Linked DNA regions of Homo sapiens: all the other regions are linked to region 2. Evidence: fine-mapped expression QTL. A gene starts in region 2. Each other region holds a variant in brackets. All regions are shown on one strand. Distances are between the middles of the regions. Region 1 overlaps HEXA (hexosaminidase subunit alpha). Region 2 holds the start of HEXA (hexosaminidase subunit alpha). Region 3 overlaps HEXA (hexosaminidase subunit alpha).

Region 1 (2,544 bases), 24 kb before region 2:
GGACTATCTTCAAAAAACTTGATCATAATTTCCCAGAAGTTATCACATCTGTTTTATCTGAGTATCATAATGCCAGTGAGATAATCATGGTAGGTATTAATACTATGTCCATTTAACAGAATATAAATACATAAAAAGGGAATAAGGCCAGAAGAGATTCTCTCCTGAAGGTCACAAGGCAAATTATCGGCAAAGTTTTGGACTTGAACTCAAGTCTCCTGACTCCAAATCCAGTGTCCTTCCCCTATATTGGTCTAAAACTGGCTGGTTAGGATGAGAGACCCTGTTCTTGCCAGCAGGGCCACAGCCAGATTCAGACATTGACCCATAAACTTGGTCTGAGTGAAACGGGAACATACCTTTCTCATGAGCTCTGGAAAAGTGAAGCTCTCATATGGGAAGGAAGGATCATCTACCAGATGCCAGTGGAACACGTTCAATTTATTGTACGCCATGACATCCTGTAGGTTAAAGTGCACACTGTGAACCCATCACAGTCTCTCCGGTTTCAGCCTCAAACTTGCGATGTTGGGCGAGCTCTCAGGCCGCTCCACACACCCCTACAGGCTTGACCTGCCTCAGCTCTCAATTAAGTATTTATGGGGTCTATCAAACCTTCCCATCAGGGAGGGATGGCATGGAGGGAAGGCCCAGCACACTTCTACTTTTCCCAGAACACATCCAAAGATGGATGATAGAAGTGGTCTTTCCTCTTCTTGAAATAAATTCTGGCCACATTAAGAGGAGGGCTGCAGCTACTGTGGTAGCCTGGAATCTTCCAAAAGCCTGAAGATCAATACTTCCTCTTGCCATTTGTGTTCGGTTGTCTGACTGATGTTAAGCCCAACTGTGAGACCTCCTGGGAACTTAGTAGCCTCTTAACTCATAATCTCAGAAGCAAAGGCTGGCAGATGTGTGGCCTCCTTTGGTTCCGTCACAGGAGCAAAGGAAAAGGCAGACACAGGAACTGGATTGGGAACTGTCAGATAAGACTGCACATTAAACTCAAGAGAGTTAGGAACTTCCCCAGGAAAGGCTTTTTTTTTTTTTTTTTTTTTTTTTGAGACAGAGTCTTGCTGTGTCACCCAGGCTGGAGTGCAGTGGCACAATCTCAGCTCACTGCAACCTCCACCTCCCAGGTTCAAGTGCTTCTCATGCCTCAGCCTCCTTCCTTCCTTCACTTATTTATTTATTTATTTATTTTTGAGACAGGGTCTCTGTTGTCCAGGCTGGAGTGCAGTGGTGCAATCACAGTTCATGCATCCTTGATCTCCCCAGGCTCAGGTGATTCTCCCATCACAGACTCCTGAGTAGCTGGGACTACAGGTTTGCGCCATCGCGCCTGGCTAATTTTTTGTATTTTCAGTAGAGATGGGGTTTCACCGTCTTGGCCAGGTTAGTCTCAAACTCCTGAGCTCGGGCAATCCACCCGCCTTGGCCTCCCAGAGTGCTAGGATTACAGGTGTGAGCCACTGCACCTGGCCCCAAGTTAAGGCTTTGAACGTCTCTCTCCTATGACCTTGTTCTAACTAAAGTTAGCTCTGCC[G/A]GCCAGGTGTAGTGACTCATGCCTGTAATTCTACCACTCTGGCAGGCCAAGGTGGGCAGATTGCTTGAGCCCAGGAGTTCAAGACCAGCCTGGGTAACATGACGAAACCCCAGCTCTACAAAAAATACAAAAAAAAAAAAAAAAAATTGAGACGCTGTCTCAAAAACAAATATAGTTAGCTCTGCCAATGAAGCCAATTCCCCTAAACATTTGTATCCCTGGAAACAGCCTGAACATTGATCTACAGTAGCCTGTAAGGTAGATTTAAGTCACTCTGTTATTTTTTGAGTCTTGGAGCAGCTCATCTTCTACATTTTTCCCAGGAGCTCATAGAATTACATACAATTTTTTTTTTTTTTTTTGAGACAGCGTCTCACTCTTTCACCCAGGCTGGAGTGCAGTGGCGTGATCTCCACCCACTGCAACCTCTGCCTCCTGGGTTCATGCGATTCTCCTGCCTCAGCCTCCCAGGTAGCTGGGATTACAAGCATGCACCACCATGCCCAGCTAATTTTTGTATTTTTAGTAGAGACAGAGTTTCACCATGTTGGCCAGGCTGGCCTTGAACTTCTGACTTCAGGTGATCCGCCCACCTCGGCCTCCCAAAGTGTTGGGATTACAGGCATGAGCCACCACACCCAGTCCATACATTCCCTCTCTAACTCTTTAAGAATTTGGAACTTGGTCTGTCCGTTGCTCCATCACCCTAGAACTCTTAAGTGTGAAGAAGGCCTTAAGGCCTGGTTACCAGAGTGTCCAGGATGCTAGAGAGTGGCAGGTAATGGCGAGATGTATCCAACAGCAAGCCCCGGTGAGGAAAGCGGGGAAAGTCCTCAATCTCAGTCTTGTTGATAAAGAACTGTGCAGAACAAACATTGAACATGTCAGTTTCAAAGGAAGCTTACTATGGGGGCACAGGGAGATGAAGACAACTCTCCCAGGATTCTTAAAAAGCCAATCTGTGACTGTTCTCAGGGTCGCTCTCTCCCTAAATGCTC
Region 2 (2,848 bases):
TGCTGAGATTGTGTTTCTTTCCCCAAATCAAATGTCACTCTCTAAGGGTCATCTGTATAATTAAATGCTTTTAATTCTATATATCAAATGATAACTTTTGTGAAAGTAATTTAAACACACTTGAAACATCATATAAAATATTACTACAAGACTTAACCGTAAATGTGGCTCCCACCCCCATAACATCTATACAATATAACCAAAGAGCTAGATTCCAGATTATCAAGAAACTTCTAAATTTTGAACCCATGCAGCAGAATTGTATTCCTTTACATTGTTGGCTCGACTTACAAATGTGCTGTGGAATAATTATCCTCAAATACAATTTTCAGTACTGATTACATAGCTGCCTAAAAGAAAACTGTTAGCCCCTTCCATTTTATGTGAAACCAATGTCTAAAGCGCTCTTGACTCTTCAACCCCACATTTTCCCCACCCTCATCCCTCCTCAATCCCCAGCCCCCACTCATCACATCCACTAGACCTGAACTTTGAACTCAATCATAATTCTTTGTGCCTCTGCTCAAGCCCTTCTTCCTGCCTGGAATACCCTCTTTTCAGTCCCGGCTAATTACATCTACCATCCCATTCCAAGTGGCCGCTGGAAACTCACTTCCTTATGTTCTATGATTTCTTTCACAATTTACACTTTTTTTGTTTTGTTTTGTTTTGTTTGGGGGGGGGGGTTGTTTTTCTGAGAGGGAGTCTTGCTCTGTTGCCCAGGCTGGAGTGCAGTGGCGCGATCTCAGCTCACCACAACCTCCACCTCATGGGTTCAACCGATTCTCCTGCCTCAGCATCCCGAGTAGCTGGGACTACAGGCGCGCGCCGCCACGCCTGGCTAATTTTTTGTGTTTTTGGTAGAGACGGGGTTTCACTATGTTGGCCGGGCTGGTCTCGAACTCCTGACCTCGTGATCCGCCCGCCAAACATTCTATGTGCCAGAAACTTGTATGTAACTTTGCATAGTTCTTGTATTATGTCTCCCCAATTTTGAGTGTTTTCTCTGGTCTCTACTCAGCCCTTGCTCACAGTCTCACTAGGACCCTGGCTAGCTTGAACACGGTCAGAAGGATCACCTTAGATTTCTGCTGGCACAGTATTTTCCATAAATTAATCTCCTGATTGAACCGTAGTCCTATAGTAGTTATCTTTGGATGAAAACCTAATGCAGCTCGAGGAGGAAGTGGAGTGCCTGTGATCAGAGGGCTGGACAAAAGCCCATAGGGCGTCTCTGGAGCCCTGGGGGAACTGTCCCCAGGCAGGCACTCTCAGGGCCCAGGAACAGGGCGGGACAAGTCCGACTCACCTGTGAGGTAAGGACGGGGCCAAGACCCGGAACCGAAAAGCAGGTCACGATAGCGCTGGAAGGCCTCGTCGAGGACTGAGCAGCCGGGCTGCGCGGCCGAGCTGACATCGTACTGGAATTGAAAGTTGTTCGGGTAAAGGACGTAGCGCTGGTCGGAGGTTTGGAAGTTCTGAGGCCAGGGCCAGAGGGCCGTCGCCCGTCCTGCGAACGCTGCCGCCAGCAGCAGCGAAAACCAAAGCCTGGAGCTTGTCATGGCCCGCTGGTCTCCCCTCTCGGAGGGGGCTGGCCACGTGAGACCCTGGTCAGGTGAGCGGCGCCCCCGTGACTTATCGGCGAATCACGTGACCAGAGGCGGCTCTGCGCCTGCGACCCCAGGAGGACCCACACCCTGCCCTTTCACTTCCGGCCTGGACCTGAGGCTCCTGCTACGTGCAGCGGATTGTGCCGGGCGTCGGCAACTGCTCGGCTCGCCAGACTGTTCACGGGCCCAGTAGAGCAGTAAATAACCGGCCACCCCTGCGGCCGTGCCGGCCGTGATGGAACTAGACAGCTCACCCGACTCGAGAAGAACGGGGTGGGGAGGCGAGGACGCAGGGCGACCTGGAGAAGAAAGTTTCCCAGATGGCTCTAGGGTGAATCTTGAATGTTGTGATGCAGCTCGCCAGGCCTACGGGGAGGTAAAGGACTTGCCAGGCTGAAGTAACTTCAGAAGCAGAAAAACGGAGGATTAAAACCACAAGTCGTTGTGATGTGAAATTTCGTGGGGCAAGAAAGGGCCGGAAGTAGGTAGTCTGCACGGCTCTGCTAGAGAGAGGATCACAAGATCACACAAATGTGATCTACTTATGACTGGAAAAAATGTGTACTTTCAGAGCCAGCTTGAGGCATTCCATTGCCTCCAATATGAGCTCTTCCCTTCAAGATTGACTATAAATCTCTTAGTTACAACTCACATCCCCTTTCCCCAGACAAAACCCCACATAGCCCGGTGTGTATTTACTGAAAGCAGTAAGATATTGCTGGGGCTTTGGGTGCAAGATGGAGAGTGCTCAGAGATAATGACAGGGGCCTGGTCCTGCAGGGCCTTACGTAGAAAGTCAAGGAATTTATTCTCTGAGCAATTGAAAATCATCCCGAAAGATCTGCATTTTAGAAATACCATGTTGAGTAGTTGCATAAGAAACCAGTTAGGAGGCCCCTTTTTATTGGAGGTAGAGAATAATGAGAGACTGAACTACAGAAGTGGGGAAGGAAGACAGCTGTAGATCCAAGAAATAGTATCCGGAAGAGAGGCTTGAGAAGTGATCAAGGAGAATTCCACAGTTATCAGAGACCCTGTCTTCCTTGTTCACCACTATATTACCAGAACATAATACAAATAATGCTATTGTTATTGGGTGGCATTATTTGGTTAGTAGGTACTTTTTAAAATTTTTAAATTTAATTTTAGTATTAAAATACATGTAAAGATCAGGAAAATGAACTTTTAAAAATAAAGGGCTTTCACTGGGCATGATAACACATCCCTGTAGTCCCAGC
Region 3 (2,848 bases), 36 kb before region 2:
TGAAGATGTTGGCTACCTGAGCTTGGACCCCAGAGGAAATACACATACATATATTATATATATGTTTGTCGGTCAGTCTATCATCTATCTATCTATCTATCTATCTATCTATCTATCTATCTATCTGTCTAATCTATCTGTCTATCTACCTACCTACCTACCTATCTATCTATGGCTGTCCAGGTGTAAGACTGCACACTAAGACTGTCTAAATGAGATCACTAGGAAGAAAGTATAAGAGGAAAGGTAAGGTGCTGTGGCTCATGCTTGTAATCCCAGCACTTTGGGAGGCTGAGGTGTGTGGATCACCTGAGTTCAGGAGCTCAAGACCAGCCTGGCCAACATGGCGAAATCCTGTCTCTACAAAAATGCGAAAAAATTAGCCGAGTGTGGTGGTGCACACCTGTAGTTCCAGCTACCCAGGAGGCTGAGGCAGGAGAATCGCCTGAGACTGGGAGACGGAGGTTGAAGTGAGCTGAGATTGCACCACTGCACTAGGGCCTGGGCAATAGAGCAAGAGAGCGAGACTCTGTCTCAAAGAAGAAAAAAAAAAAGAAGACAAAACCTTGGTTATGGGCTGAGAGTTTACTGAAGGAGTCAGTGATAGACATTGAGAAACTCAGGAAAGAATGGTGTCACAAAAGCCTGCGAAGAAAGAATTTCAAAGAGGGAGGGATCAAAATCTCAAAAATATGCGAAAAGATCAAGTAATTTTTTTCCTTATTATTGAGCAATGTCCCTTGATTTGGCAACATGTAGGTTATTGTTGGCCTTAGTGGAAGCGGCCCTTATGAGGATTACAGCCCAACTGTGGGGTCATGAGGGCTGAATGCAAAGTGGTGAAATAGACAAACTTGCAACTGTTTCAGGCAGCTTGACTAATAAAAGTGGACTGAGAGGTTTTAATTTTATTTGTTTAAACATAGGAGAAGAAATGGATTCGAGCCCAGAAATAGCTGAGTTGCTAGCTTTATCTGTATGTCTGTATTTGGTGTCCGAGAGGAGGAAGATGTCTGACGTGGGGCAGCCCAGGACAGTGGCTGAAGGCAGTAGGGGCTAGAGTTAGGTAGCTGAGTTAGGAGTCATATGCCCTGCAACTCCCCAGTGCTAATCGGGACTCAGCGTAGCTGTGTAACCATATAGATGTCACTTAACCTTCCTATGTTTGTTTCCTTATCTGTCAAATGAGGATAATATTGATAGCACATTGGTTGGGATGAGGATTAAATACATTAACATCCAGTAAAGTGCTTATAATAGTGCCTGACAGGTCGGGCTTGGTGGCTCAGCCTGTAATCCCAGCACTTTGGGAGGCCAAGGTGGGCAGATCACCTGAGGTCAGGAGTTTGAGACCAGCCTGGCCAACA[T/C]GGTAAAACCCCGTCTCTACTAAAAATACAAAAATTAGCAGGGTGTGGTGGCACATGCCTGTAGTCCCAGCTACTTGGGAGGCTGAGGCAGGAGAATTGCTTGAACTCGGGAGGTGGAGGTTGCAGTGAGCCCAGATTGCACCACTGTATTCCAGCCTGGGTGACAAGAGCAAAACTCCATCTCAAAAAGAAAAGAAAAAAAAAAAAAAAACAACAAAAGTGCCTGACACAGCAAGCACATAAAAATGACGAAGCACTTTTGTTCTCCTAGCTGGATCTCCACATCTATCTTCATTCAGATTTCTGACTCATGTGAGTCTAGATAAACACCAGCAGTTGAGTTCCTATGTTCAAATATCCTCTTTCATAATAGATCATCCAGACACTCAGACACACGCTCTCACTCACACACTCTGCAGCACACCAGCGAGCATGGCACCCCTTCCCATCTGTGTCTGCCTGCCAGCTGCTCTTCCTCCTTTCCCACACACACTCCCTTTTTTGAGTGGCTTCCAAAACATCTCTTTCTAATTTGCTATAAAGAGTGAGCCATAAAGAATTTATTAAGTGATGAAAAAAATCACAGCTAAGTATCAGATTCTCCAGAGGAAATAAGATTAAAAAGAAATTCTGGAAAACAGTTGTTTTTGGAGAAGGGAATAGCATTGGGAAGGGGGATATTAATAATGTTTCATCTTTTTTGTTTAAAAAAAACAAATCTGAAGCAAATATGACTACTGAGATGCAACAAAGCTGGGTGGTTACACTGTTTACTATTTTCTAGACTTTTCTGTTGTTTGAAACATTTGAAATCACTAAAAAATAGGAGTATTTACTGGGATAGTTTAGACTAAACATGGGTGTGGTTAGAGTACAGTAATTACTGTGAAAAAAGCAAGGTTCCTGGACATTTAAATTTTTTTCTTTTTTTTGAAACATGGTCTCACCCTGTTGCTGAGGCTGGAGTTCAGTGGTGTGATCATGACTCATTGCAGCCTCAATCTTCCAGGCTGAAGTGATCCTTCTTTCTCAGCCTCCTGAGTAGCTGGGACTACAACCACACACCACCATTCTTAGCTAATCTTTTTAATTTTTAGTAGAAATCAGGTCTCACCATGTTGCCCAGGGTGGTCTTTAACTCCTGAGCTCAGGCAATCCTCCCACATCGGCCTCCCAAAGTGCTGGAATTAGAGGCATGAGCCACTGCACCTGACCCTGACATTTCGATTTTTAAAAATTTTGTTGAAAAACGTCACACACACACACACACACACACACACACACACCTGCTTCAAAGAGGATTTTTAAAAACAATGGTGGCTCGGCTAGAAAAGATACTAATTTTCAACCTTTATTTCAAAGTTTATTTATAAAGGAAATACAAATTTTGATAAACAAAGCACCCAATTCCTACTTATTTTTTTTCTTCGTGGAAAAAAAAGTATGTGACACATACTTGTCATGCCCTGTATTGATTAAGC

The links. PIP is the estimated chance that this variant, and not a neighbour inherited with it, causes the effect.
Region 1: its variant is fine-mapped to the expression of HEXA in lung (TOPMed, PIP 0.94).
Region 3: its variant is fine-mapped to the expression of HEXA in whole blood (TOPMed, PIP 0.92).

The regions. Positions count from the first base shown.
Region 1 is chr15:72,350,774-72,353,317 of GRCh38, forward strand. HEXA (hexosaminidase subunit alpha) reads right to left here. Exons shown (of 14, transcript NM_000520.6): 5 at 2,295-2,405; 6 at 360-461. Among named protein-coding and RNA genes, the nearest start is that of HEXA, 24 kb to the right of the region's middle. The variant G/A (reference allele first, on the strand shown) is at 1,547.
Region 2 is chr15:72,374,411-72,377,258 of GRCh38, forward strand. HEXA (hexosaminidase subunit alpha) reads right to left here and starts at 1,604. Exons shown (of 14, transcript NM_000520.6): 1 at 1,310-1,604. The coding sequence starts at 1,562. HEXA-AS1 (HEXA antisense RNA 1) reads left to right here and starts at 1,703. Exons shown (of 1, transcript NR_027262.1): 1 at 1,703-2,848. RefSeq lists enhancers at 840-1,395, 1,396-1,952, 1,844-1,983, 2,314-2,363.
Region 3 is chr15:72,338,222-72,341,069 of GRCh38, forward strand. HEXA (hexosaminidase subunit alpha) reads right to left here. Exons shown (of 14, transcript NM_000520.6): 14 at 2,703-2,848. Among named protein-coding and RNA genes, the nearest start is that of CELF6, 19 kb to the left of the region's middle. The variant T/C (reference allele first, on the strand shown) is at 1,368.